Linked DNA regions of Homo sapiens: regions 1 and 2 are each linked to region 3. Evidence: fine-mapped expression QTL. A gene starts in region 3. Each other region holds a variant in brackets. All regions are shown on one strand. Distances are from middle to middle. Region 1 has its middle 3.0 kb from the start of OR13J1. Region 2 overlaps TMEM8B (transmembrane protein 8B). Region 3 holds the start of TMEM8B (transmembrane protein 8B).

Evidence for each region. PIP is the estimated chance that this variant, and not a neighbour inherited with it, causes the effect. A credible set is the group of variants that fine-mapping cannot tell apart.
Region 1: its variant is the best candidate, but not a certain one, in a credible set for the expression of TMEM8B in monocytes (TOPMed, PIP 0.80).
Region 2: its variant is the best candidate, but not a certain one, in a credible set for the expression of TMEM8B in nasal epithelium (TOPMed, PIP 0.62).

What each region holds. Positions count from the first base shown.
Region 1 is chr9:35,871,328-35,875,566 of GRCh38, forward strand. It overlaps the pseudogene NDUFA5P4. Among named protein-coding and RNA genes, the nearest start is that of OR13J1, 3.0 kb to the left of the region's middle. The variant TCTA/T (reference allele first, on the strand shown) is at 1,667.
Region 2 is chr9:35,852,886-35,857,081 of GRCh38, forward strand. It overlaps TMEM8B (transmembrane protein 8B), which reads left to right. Exons shown (of 13, transcript NM_001042590.4): 11 at 1-88; 12 at 256-372; 13 at 620-4,196. The coding sequence ends at 955. Among named protein-coding and RNA genes, the nearest start is that of OR13J1, 15 kb to the right of the region's middle. The variant G/T (reference allele first, on the strand shown) is at 2,336.
Region 3 is chr9:35,826,854-35,831,092 of GRCh38, forward strand. It overlaps TMEM8B (transmembrane protein 8B), which reads left to right and starts at 2,375. Exons shown (of 13, transcript NM_001042590.4): 1 at 2,375-3,102. The coding sequence starts at 2,595. FAM221B (family with sequence similarity 221 member B) reads right to left here and starts at 1,879. Exons shown (of 7, transcript NM_001012446.4): 1 at 1,610-1,879. RefSeq lists a silencer at 2,232-2,681 and an enhancer at 2,967-3,467.

The DNA.
Region 1 (4,239 bases), 44 kb after region 3:
AATCTGATGGAGCTTTTGGCCCAGCTCCAAACCCCTATGTTCTGTGGGCCAGAGCGAGGGCTGCTTTGACTTCATGAACTCCTAGGGTATTAGCATGGAACATGACCAGAGGCCAACTTGTTGGATCTCCCATTGTATAGATGGGGATGCTGAGGTCACACAACAGGTCTCTGGTGAGGTGAAGCTAGAATCCAGCCCTCCCAACAGTGTGACCCCTATACCATGCTCAGAGCAGGTGTATGCTTCTATTAGGTTTCAAACAATGCTTGTTCTTTTACCATTCTAGATGGATATCAGTGCCCCAGGTGCTGCCACAATCCTCTCACCAGCAAAAGAGCATGAGTCACCTCTCCTTAGTGTTCCAGGGTATCTGGCACGGTGTCATTAATCCCATGGGACACGATGCCAAATCCTGGGCCTGGGTGGAGCACAGTTCCTCTCAGTGCCTTCCTTGCAGGAGACCATTTCCGTCTTTTATTCCACCCTCACTTACTCATCCCAGAACCTAGAAGTAACTGAGGACCTGCTACATGTCAGGTGGTGCCAGATGTGAGGGAGCACTGATGACAGGTGTGCTCCCAGGCTGCTGAGTGCAAACCCTTCCTAGGCAGAGAGGACCCCCAAGTCTTCCATACCCAGCCTCACCGTCCCCCCACTCTTCCGTACCCAGCCTCACCCACCCCTCCCACTCTCCCATACCCATCCTTGTCCTCCCCCACCCTCCCATACCCAGCCTCCCCCTCCCCTGACTCTTCCATACCCAGCCTCACCCACCCTTCCCACTCTCCCATACCCAGACTCACCCTCCCCCCACTCTCCCATACCCAGCCTCACCCACCCTTCCCACTCTCCCATACCCAGCCTCACCCTTCCCTCACTCTTCCATACCCAGCCTCACCCACCCTTCCCACTCTCCCACTTTTCCAAAAGTAACTATTGTTATTAGTTTTGTGTATATCTATCCAGATACTTTTCTGGCCATTTGCATATGTATATCTATACATGGAAATAGGTCTTGTGACTTTTTAGTATGCTTTTTTGTTGCAGCTTTATTGAAGGATGGTTGATGTACAACTATATTTAAATCATATAATTTGATTAGTTTTAATGTATACAGTCATGAAACCATGACCACAATCAAGATAATGAACTTATCTAATATACCCACAATTTTTCTCATGCCCCTTGGTAATCCATTCCTTTCTTCCCCAACCAGGCAGCCACTGATTTGCTCTCTGTAACTGTAGATTACTTTCATTTTCTAGCATTTTACATAAAGGGAATTATGCAGAATGTACTCTTTTTAAAATCTGGCTTCTTTCACTCAGCGTGATTATTTTGAGAGTCATCCATGTTGTGTGAATCAATGGTTAGTTCTTTTTAAAAATAGCATCTTTATTGAGCTATAATTCAAACACCATGCAGCCGCCCATTTAAATTCACCCATTTAAAATGTACAATTCAAATACAAAACTATTGCATTGTACACTTTAAATGGGTGAGTTTAAAGTGTACAACGGGTGAATTTAAAGTGTACAATGCAATAGTTTTGAGTATCACCACAGTTGATTTTAGAACATGTTTATCACTTCCAAAGGAAGCCCATACCCTTTAGCCATCACTCCCCTTTTCCCCTCAACCTCCTCCAGTCTTAGGAAACCATTAA[TCTA/T]CTTTTTGTCTCTTTTGAGCTGCCTATTCTGGACATTTTACATAAATGAAATTATAAAATATGTTTCCCTTTGTGACTGGTTTCTCTTACTTAGCTTAATGTTTTCAAGGTTCATCTATATTGTAGCATGTATCAGGACTTACTTTCTTTTTATTGCTAATTAATATTCAGTTGTATGGATATACCACATTTTATGTGCCCATTCATCAGTTGATAGACATTTGGGTTGATTCCACTTTTTGACTGTTACGAATAGTGCTGCTATGAACATTTGCATACAAGTTTTTGTGTGGATGTATATTTTCATTTTTCTTGGATATTTTCTTAGGAGTGGAGTTTCTAGGTCATATAGAAACTCTATGTGTATATTTTTGGGGAACTGCCAGTTTCCAAAATGGAAAGTATCATTTTACTTTCCCATTTTACATTTCCCCAATATGTGAGGGTTTCAATTTCTCCACATCCTCACCAACAATTGTTATTATCTGCTTTTTAAATTATAGCCATCTTGGTTGGGTGTGGTGGCTCACGCCTGTAATCCCAGCACTTTGGGAGGCCGAGGTGGGCAGATCACTTGAGACCAGGAGTTCGAGACCAGCCCGGGCAACATGGTGAAACCTCGTCTCTACAAAAAATACAAAAATTAGCCGGGCATGGTGGCATGTGCCTGTAGTCTCCGCTACTTGGGAGATTGAGGCAGGAGAATAGCTTGAGCCCAGAAGGTTGAGGGCTGCTGTGAGCCATGTTCATACCACCCTACTCCAGCCTGGGTGACAGAGTGAGACCCTGTCTCAAAAAAAAAATTTATATTTATATATAACCATCATAGTAAGAGTGAAGTGGTATCTAATTGTGATTTTGATTTGCATTTCTCTAATGGCTAATGACATTGAACATATTTTCAAGTGCTCATTGGGTATTTGTATATCTTCTTTGGAGAAAAAAATAGGCTCTTTAGCCTATTTTAATTTTAATTTTTTTTCTTTGAGATGGGGTTTCGCTCTGATACCCAGGCTGGGGTGCAGTAGTGTGACCTGGGCTCACTGCAACTTCTGCCTTTTGGGCTCAAGTGATCCTCCCACCTCAGCCTCCCGAGTAGCTGGGATCACAAGCACACACCATCATACCCAGGTAATTTTTGTGTATTTTTGGTAGAGATGGGGTTTCACCATGTTGGCTAGGCTGGTCTCAAACTTCTGATCTCAAATGATCCAACTGCCTCGGCCTCCCAAAGTGCTAGGATTACAGGTGTGAGCCACTGCACCTGGCCTAATTATGTATTTACATTTTACTTTACATACGTAAGATCACAGCCAAGGAGGTTAACTATAATTTCAAATTTTATTACCAGCCACTTGTGCTATTTTATCACATTTGAAAATATTCACTCTTACTATATTTACTTTAAACAGTGATCTATAAATTTGTTTAGACAATAATAATTAAGGACCTTTTCTTCTTCAGAATGATAAAAAAATTAATGATGTATTGAAGATACTACTAAAGAAACTTTACTTTTGGAGTATGGCCTCTGCATTGAAGATCTGTAGGATTTTTTAAAATTAATTTTCAAGTCTTTCCATGACCTCTCTGTTCTAAGAAATATCATCTTTGTAATAATTTGTGTGAATACTTTACAAATCAAAAATTGATTCACAATACTGTACTACCATAATCACTAATTTTAAGTCTCTTAAACATTTTCTATATTACTTTTCTTGATTATAAAATGTCAATAATATGGGCATGCTCTTAATATAACAGAATATTTAATTATATTATTTTTCCCATCAACCCACCAGTCATTTATTAATTACATTGGCCATTTCCATTGATTGGCAGGAGGCTCTTCCATGAACATCTCCTATCATTTCCACTGTATCATTTTTCTTGCCAGACTTAGTTCATTTTCAGCCTGAAGAATCACCTCTTTTATTTGAACACCTTGAAGTTGGTCTTCTAATTTTTTAACATCTGGTTCTGCTTTAACCATAGCCAATTTCTCATCTGCAATCTGTTCTGTATACTTTCTATGTGCTGCTTTTTAAGGGGTTTGCTTAAGAACATCAAGGATCTTTGTGTACAATATTCTTAGCCTCTTACATTTTAGCAGACTGATTTTAGTTGCTTGTCTTGTGTGGACTCTTGCATACAGCCAATCCCATGAGGCCAGTGGTCTTCTTCAGCACACCTGCCATGACAGCGCCAATGAGCCAGTCGGATCTTCTTTAATTTCTTTCAACAATATTTTGTAATTTTTAGAGTATACATTTTTTCCAAGAATATAATTATATACATATTGTTTTATATGATTTCTTTGAAAAATAGGAGAAGAAATAAGAAATATGCACTTAAAACTGCCTTTTATAATTATATAATTACCTTTATCAGTGCTCTTTGTTCTATCATGTGGATTTGAATTTCCGTCTGTATTTGCTTGCTTTCAGCCTAGAGGATTTCTTTTAGTATTTCTTGTAAAGTGGGTCTGCTAGCAATGAATTCTCTTAGTTTTTGTTTATGTAGGTATGTCTTTATTTTGCCTTGGTTTTTGAAAGACAGTTTTTCTGTTT
Region 2 (4,196 bases), 26 kb after region 3:
GCTGCAGTTCTGTGATTTCCTGGGCTCCTTAATGTCCGTGTGGGTCACTGTCATTGCCATGGCTCGTTTACAGCCCGTGGTCAAGCAGGTCAGTCCAGAGTGGGCCCTGGGGAACAACCATGGCCAAGTCTCCTTGAAATCCACTCCTGACCTCTCCCTGGGGGCATTTCCAAGTGCCTCTCATGATTCTGACCCAGGCCCTGGAGTGCTGTCTGTCACCTGGCCCTAGCCCAGCCCTTGAGTCTCTTTCTCTAGGTGCTGTATTTGCTGGGAGCTATGCTGCTGTCCATGGCTCTGCAGCTTGACCGACATGGACTCTGGAACCTGCTTGGACCCAGTCTCTTCGCCCTGGGGATCTTGGCCACAGCCTGGGTAAGGGTGGGGAGGGATGTGGGGGGAGGGTCCCAGCAGGACTTGGGTGCTGGGCCCCAGGTATCTGGTCCCCAGTTTAAGGTGGGCTTGGCTCTGTCGTCATCACCTGCTGCTGGCAGTGTCCGCTCCAGTCTTGGCAGGTGTCTTTAGGTCACAACCAGGATACAGAGGAAACCTGAGAGTGACCAGCTCTGGCTTGGGTTCCAGGGCTTGGCATTCCTGAGCCCCACTTCTCTGTCTCCCCCAGACAGTACGCAGCGTCCGCCGCCGGCACTGCTACCCACCCACGTGGCGCCGCTGGCTTTTCTACTTGTGCCCTGGCAGCCTTATTGCAGGCAGTGCCGTCCTGCTTTATGCTTTTGTGGAGACCCGGGACAACTACTTCTACATTCACAGCATTTGGCATATGCTCATTGCGGGCAGTGTGGGCTTCCTGCTGCCCCCTCGTGCCAAGACTGACCACGGGGTCCCATCTGGAGCCCGGGCCCGGGGCTGTGGTTACCAGCTATGCATCAACGAGCAGGAGGAGCTGGGCCTCGTGGGCCCAGGAGGGGCCACTGTCAGCAGCATCTGTGCCAGCTGAGAGGGGCTTTGGGCCTGGCCCTGAGGGGATATGAATGCTTCCTAGAGTTCTTTCTGGGGGTGTGGAGCCCTCTTAGAAGGAGACAGGCTGTATTTCTTGAGGACATGGAGTCTTTCTCAAGGACACAAAACTCTTCCAGGGACCTGGAGCCCTTCCCAGGACATGGAGAACTTCCTGAGGGCCTGGAGTCCCCCTGCATCATGGAGTCCTTCTTAAGGACTGGAGCCTATGCAGGCACAGAGTCCCTCAGGACCAAGGAGTCCCTCCTGCAGGTGTGGAGCCTTTCCTGGGATGCAGAGCCTTCCCAAGACATGGATTCCTTCCCAGGGAGACAAAGCCCTGTCAGGAGCACAGCATCTTTCCAGAGGAGGTGGAGTCTATCTTGGGGAAACCAAATTTCCAGATTTTCCCAGAGGCTCAGCAACTCTGGCCTCAGGCTTCCTTCCCAGAGGCAGCGTCTGGGCTGTGCTGTGCTGTGGAGGAGGGATTGCAGGATGGATGGAGCTGGGACTGGGGCTGTCTGGGTGGCTGGTATCCTCGTTTGATACAGGTGGAGTCTGTGTGTCTCCAGTGATTGATTGGTTCAGAATGGTTCTGTGATGCCTTTTTTCCCCCTGGGGTCAGGGGTGTGGGGAAGTGGGGAAAGAGGGCCCCTCAGGGAATCAGCAGGGCTGATGGGAGCTACTGCCGGAGGCTTTTGTCACACCCTGTACACAGTCTGATCCCGCTCATCTGGGCCCTGCATTCATTTCTAAACAGTTTCTAATGCCTATTCCCCAATTCCTATTGAGCCCGATTTGCAGTATCTGAGGGGTGTGTGTGTGTGTGTGTGTGTTTATGTATGTATACGTATGCTGAGATGATTTAAATCAGTGAGACAGACTTTCCTTATGATGCCCACACCCAACACAGAAGGAAGCCGAGGTCCCAGGAAATTGGAATAGCAGGTACACGTCTCAGGTGTGCAAGAAATATCACAAGAATGTAACTTCTGTTTTGAGCCCCCATTTTTCCTGAGTGCCAGAAAAGATCATTTGTCCATTTGGGATTCCTTCTCTTTCCATGAGGGTCATAGCTGAGTTCTGAGGGTCTTACATAATGCCAAGAAGTTGGGAGAGCATTCTCACTGATCACCAGTGTCCATACTTCATCCATCCCCGGGATTTCCATCATTCCATCTGGTCCCCAGTCAGAGGTCCAGACAGTTCATCTGGGATGCAGAGAGATTTCTTGTTCCCATTTGCATTACTCTCTCAGTCCTAAGGTTCTCTCTGCCACTTCTGGGCCATATGTGGAGACCCGTAAAGTTGTCTAAGGCCTTGGCTATGCAGACACACCTTGAAGCTGTTTCTGCTCTGGGTTTTGACAGACAAGGCATGA[G/T]TTGCTGCATCTGTTAAAACTGCAAATCTATCTTGGCCTGGGGTGTGGAGCTCAGGGACTCTTCCTTTTGGGACCCTCTGTGTCAGTATTCTCACTACATCCTCTCCTCCTCTCTCTTCTTTCCCCCTTTCGTTAATATTGGAGGTGAGGAAGCCTTACTTAATGTTTTCTCCTGAATCTTTTTTTTTTTGAGACGGAGTTTTGCTCTTGTTGCCCAGGCTGGAATGCAATGGTGCGATCTCAGCTCACTGCAACCTCTGCCTCCCGGGTTCAAGTGATTCTCCTGTCTCAGCCTCCCGAGTAGCTGGGATTAGAGGTGTGCACCACCAAGCCCAGCTAATTTTTGTATTTTTAGTAGAGATGGGGTTTCTCCATGTTGGTCAGGCTGCTCTCAAACTCCCGGCCTCAGGTGATCCACCCGCCTCGGCCTCCCAAAGTGCTGGGATTACAGTTGTGAGCCACCGCGCCTGGCCTCTCCTGAATCTTTTATCTATGCCTTAAGCCTTTTCTGTTCCCTTCAGGACCTAGGCTTTTGAAACCCAAAAGCCAGGAAAACATGCCTTTGTTATCTGCTTTCTGCAATCACGTCTCTTCCATGGGGCACTGAGCAGAGAATGGTGTGGCCAAGTGAGTAGTGAGAAGCAGTGAGGAGGTGTGAGCTAGGTGTCTGTTCCCATTTTAGAAAATACTGTTCCTACATCAGAAATACCACATTAAGACGTATAGAGCCAGGTCACTGGGATGCTTGAACCCAAATAGCTGGGATTCTGGACAGAGTCAGCAGAGTACAGAAGGCTCTGAAGTGGGAGACGGAGCTGGGGTGCATCCCTCCCAGTGAGGAGGGGTCATGAGGGGCGTCTGGGAAGAGGGACATTTGAACTAGGATTAGCTGAGTTGCCATGATGCTAAGATAATGGGAGAGTGTTCTTTGTGGTCACCAGTGTCCACATGGCATCCCTTCCCTGAGATTTTCATCACTCCCTGTGGTCTTCAGTCAGTAAAGCTCTTAGAACACTTGTATAGTGCCTAGTCTGGTATGTGATGTGGTCCAATATATGTTAGCTTAAGGTCACCACGTGTTTGGACATGGAGAGGGAACAGCAAGGGGGAATGCAGAGGCAGGAAAGACTGATATTTACTCCGGGCACTGAATAGTTCAGTGTGCCTGGGCCAGTGCATGTGCGCATGCTTTTGTGTGTGGAGTGGGGTGGTGGAGGTAAGCAGCCAATGATATGATTAGATAGATAAGTGGAGGTTGGGTCTTTATTCTATGGGAAATGAGGAGCCATTGGAGAGATTAAGCAGGAGAGGAACATCAGATTGGGGTTTTGATGGCTGGGGCAGAGGATGGACTTTGGGAGACCTTGGAGGACAAAGTGCAGTGACCACAGCTATTGGAACATTTGAAAGAGAAATGGTGAAGCCTTCTTAAAGCAATATCGGTGGAAAGGAGGGGACCAATTTAAGAGCTGTTAGGAGTGAACTCTTTAGGACTTGGTGACTGATTGGGTGTGTGGGGTGGTGAGGTATGAGAGAGCCTAGGATGATGGTGATATTCTGATTTGGGGATGGTGGTGCCATTCCCTGAGATGGTGACACCACTTTGGGTGGGGGGAAGATGAGCTCCACTTTGGACAGTTTGAGGTGCATGTGGGATTCCCGGAGGGAAGGGGGCCAGCAATATGACAGTGCTGGACGTAGCCGCTGAACCAGGCCTGTCTCCAGGCTCCCAAAATGGGAATCCTTGGTTGTCTCCTGACTTGTCTCAGTGGGGGAGATCCCAAGATTCAAACAGCCCTTCCTTGCCTTGAATACAGGGCTGTGGCTGGCAGATATTGCTGTACCCTTGCATGTATCTGTA
Region 3 (4,239 bases):
TGGAGTGCAGTGGCGCAATCTCGGTTCACTGCAACCTCCGCCTCCCGGGTTCAAGTGATTCTCCTGCCTCAGCCTCCCAAGTAGCTGGAATTACAGGCGTGTGCCACCATGCCCGGCTAAGTTTTATATTTTTAGTAGAGACGGGGTTTCACCATGTTGGTCAGGCTGGTCTTGAACTCCTGACCTCAGGTGATCTGCCCTGCTTGGCCTCCCAAAGTGCTGAGATTACAGGAGTGAGCCACCGTGCTTGGCCCCTGCTGGTCATTTCTAACTGAGTGTTTCCACAGACAGCAAAACTGAACTTTGGGAATTATCCTAGTCTTTTCCTTTTCCCTTAGACTCCATCTTCAAATAGGCACCAATAACTCTATTTCCTATCTTCTAAATATTCCCCAAATGCATTCTCTCCTCTCCCTTCCAATTTTATTCAAGTTCTCATCATCTTCAGCCTTTGTGTAATAACTTTGCCCCTCTACTTCCATCCACAGCATTTTAATCCATTCACCCATTCTTTCATGGATTTATGTAACTTATACTTTTACAATGAGCCTAATCTGATGCTTTTACTGACCCGCTGTGCTAAGCTCTAGATTGAGTTGAGTCTAGGAGAGAGACCGATTAACCAACAATGGCAATACAAATAAATTGATGTTGTTCTGGGGTGAGTCTAGGATACGGTGGGGAGGGGGATATACCTAATTTATCCTGCAAGGATGTAGTCCTCCTTCCTGACCCAATCAGGATCTTTCTAAAGTGCAAGCCCAACAACTGGCACTTTGTGGCTTAAAAACATTCCATGACTCAGTCTAAAGGATTAAGTCCAAATTTCTTGGCCCTGGCATTCAAGGCCTGTCATCATTTTCAACACAGCCTGAGGATTCCTGCCTTAACTTTCCGTGCTCCCTACTTTACCCCCATGTTCCAGAGACGCTAGATATATCACTCCTTAAATGCATCAGAGCCTTTTTGAAGGGGATGTTTGGGAAGGGAATTAGGGGCAGAGGTAGGATTACAGGGAGGAAGATGACCAGAGTCAGCTAGAGAGAAAAGGGGCCTAAGAGTGGAGAACCAGAAGATGGGAGGTGAGGAAGGGGAAAGAGAAGGGGAGGAGGAAATTGGGTGGAGGAGGAGAGTAAGGATGAAAAGTACAGAATGTGGGCCAGGCATGGTGGCTCATGCCAGTAATCCCAGAATTTGGGAGGCCAAGGCGGGTGGATCACTTGAGGTCAGGAGTTCGAGACCAGCCTGGCCAACATGGTGAAACCCAGTCTCTACTAAAAATACAAAAATTAGCTGGGCATGGTGGCAGGCGCCTGTAGTCCCAGCTACTGGGGAGGCTGAAGCAAGCAAATCACTTGAACCTGGGAGGCGGAGGTTGCAGTGAGCCCAGATCGCACCACTGCACTCCAGCCTGGGGGACAGAGCGAGACTCTGTCTCAAACAACAACAACAACAACAACAACAACAACAACAACAACAACTACTACTACTACTACTACTACTACTACTACTACTACTACTACTACAACAATGTGAAGGGACTGAGGGGTGGGAGAAAGACAGATGTCTTTGAGGGAAGAGGGCAAGGGCCGTTGGAGAAACCACCTACCCTCTGGGCTTTGGCTTGGTTGTTACAAGTCCTTAGGTCAAGACCTTGACTTAGGATGGCAGGGGGAGGTGTTGATCCTCAGGGAGGAAAGGCTCTTGGTTGTGGATGTGCCTCAGCTGCAGGTGCTGAGTGTTGAAATGCCTTGCCTGAAAGTCTGCTATCTGGGAAGGGGACTTGGATATCTGCAGAACTTCGCAAAGGAGCTCTGGCATGACCTGGGGAAGTGGGTAGGGACAAGGGGTCTAGGGCCAATGAGGGAGGGTCTTGACTGAAGCCTCCGGAACCCGGGCCAGGAGAGTAGGCGCCGGTCACCAGGGCAACCGGAACGCCTAGTAGTCTCCGTGGCAACGGCGGTCTGGTCACCTCCCCGGTGGGTAAGGTCTCCTGAGGGGCTTGCATTGGGCCTCGAGGGGGCGAGCCCAGAGGGTTTACTTCTGAAAAGTGGGGTGTGTGTTGCGGGATCTCTGTGAGCGAGTGTTTGGGTAGGATCTGCGGAGATCTGTGCGTACGTCCGGGGGAGTCTGGGATTGTGAGGATAGGGTTCCTTTGAGACATCTGTGGGGCGGTCGTTGGGGGCTGTGAGGATCTGAGGGGACCTCGGGCTCTGTGCTTGGGGTGAGAAAGGCAGGGTCTCGGGTAGCTGAGGCGGGGGCGGAGTCTGTGTGTCCTCGAAGCCCAGCAGGACTAAGTTGGGGACCAATAGAGTAGGGCGGGGGCGGGCTTTACTGACAGGGACCAATCGAGCCGGCCGGGGGGCGGGGCGTCACGCCGACGTCAAGTCGAGGCCGCCGCCGCGGGGCCTGGTTATCGCCGGTTCAGCGCAGCCCGGAGTCGCCCAGGCCTGAACTCCTACCCAGGTCCCCGGCCCCCGCCCCGGGCCCGCGAGGACACCGGAGGCCACCCCCCGGGGGTGGGGAGCGGAGCCGCGGGCCAGCTCTGCGAGCGCCCCGCGCTGGCCTGTCCGGCCCCGCCCCCGCCCCGGGCCATGGCCCAGCCCTTGTCCCGGCCCCTCGTCCTATCCCAATCCCCGCCTTGGCCCCCAGCCCCGCCCTCGCCCCGCTTCCCACATCGGCCCCAGCCCCTGCCTGGGTCCCCATCCAGGACCCCCTTCCAGTCTCTGCCCCTGGCCTGGCCCCCATCCCGGCCTCGGCCCTCGTTCCACCCCCTGTCACAAATCCCAGCCCAGGCCCTGTCCCAGCCCCATTCCCAGTGTTTGCTTAAGGCCCTGGCTCAACCCCGTCCCTTGCTGCAGTCCCCATCACAGCCCTTCCTTCCATCCCACTCCCTGCCCTTGTTCAAGCCCCAGTGTCCAGCCCAGCCCAACCCATTATCTCAGCCTTTGCCCTCATCTCTGTGTTTACCCAAGTCTCTCCCTCTAGTCCCCCCTATCTCTCATACTCTGCCCCTCTCCCAGCCTAGACTCAAGTCTGGGTTTCAGCTGCCGCCAGCCCTATTGCTGCTGTTGCTGTTCTCTGTCCTTGGCCCAGGGGCTGGTGAGTGCAGAAGCAGGGAAGATTGAGGCAGGAATGGGGTTCCGGCAGGGAGGGGTGGGCTGGAGAGATTCAGGAGAGGTGGGACCTGGGGAACTAGATCATTGGGGAGCAAGTGGGAGAAATAGAGAGTAGAGAGGTCTTACACAACAGGGATTGGCAGGGTCAAAAGAGTGGTAATTAATTGGGTTTGAGGCTCAGCAGGTGGCTTACAGTTTCTAGCACAGAGACTCCAAGATTTTTTCTGGTGTCTGTCCTGACCCCACTTTGACTCTTGCTTTTCCAGGGAAATGTTGTGGGCTTTGCTCCTGCTCACAAAGTTTGATGGGGGAGAGACAGTCCCACACCAGAAGCCCCTAGTGTAGTGTGGGAATATATAGCCCAAACCTTTGAGATATTGGGCATGCATTCAAACGGCATGAAGAAGAGTTTTAAAGATAATATGTAGCAAATAGATGAATATGGATTAGTTGCCATTATAATGAGTTTTCTTCTTGTAATGATTCTTGTTCCAAAGAAGATTGATTTGCCTAGGAATAATTCCTGATACTTTTAGAGCAGGGCTGAAACTCGGAGGCTATTTTACAGATGGGGAAACTGAGGCTCAGGGAGGGAGCAATTTGTCCAAAGTCAGAGAGCTTGTGAATGGCAGTGTGCTGGGGCTAGAAAAAAGGTTTCCTAATTCCTATTTCATACTAGTGTGTTTTTTTTTATCCACTGCAATGTATACTTAATAGAAAAATAGACCCAAGTGGGGAAAGGCTCAAAGCATAACCTCCCTTCTCCCCGGTCTGCCCACAAGGGTGCTTTATCCACAAACTGTTCCTTATTTGCCAGGCGTCAGCCAAGGGCCACCCTCCGGTGGGGAAGTGACTTGGACAGAAGAGAGAGAGGTCCAATTTTTTAATGGTTGGAATGTGGGAGGAGGAGGGGGTGTCCTGGTCTAGGGGATGTGCCATGAAGATGGCTCCATCATGGAGTGACTGTAGTCTTCATGGCCCAAGTCTGTAGCCACCTCTGGTGGGTGTCACTCTAGATAGGATGGAGATGTGCCTGATGGAGTCTTTGGAAATAACAGCCAACAGAACAGCTGGGGGGTGGAGAATGGGTATCAGTGAGCTCTGGGGGCCTGGTTCAGTG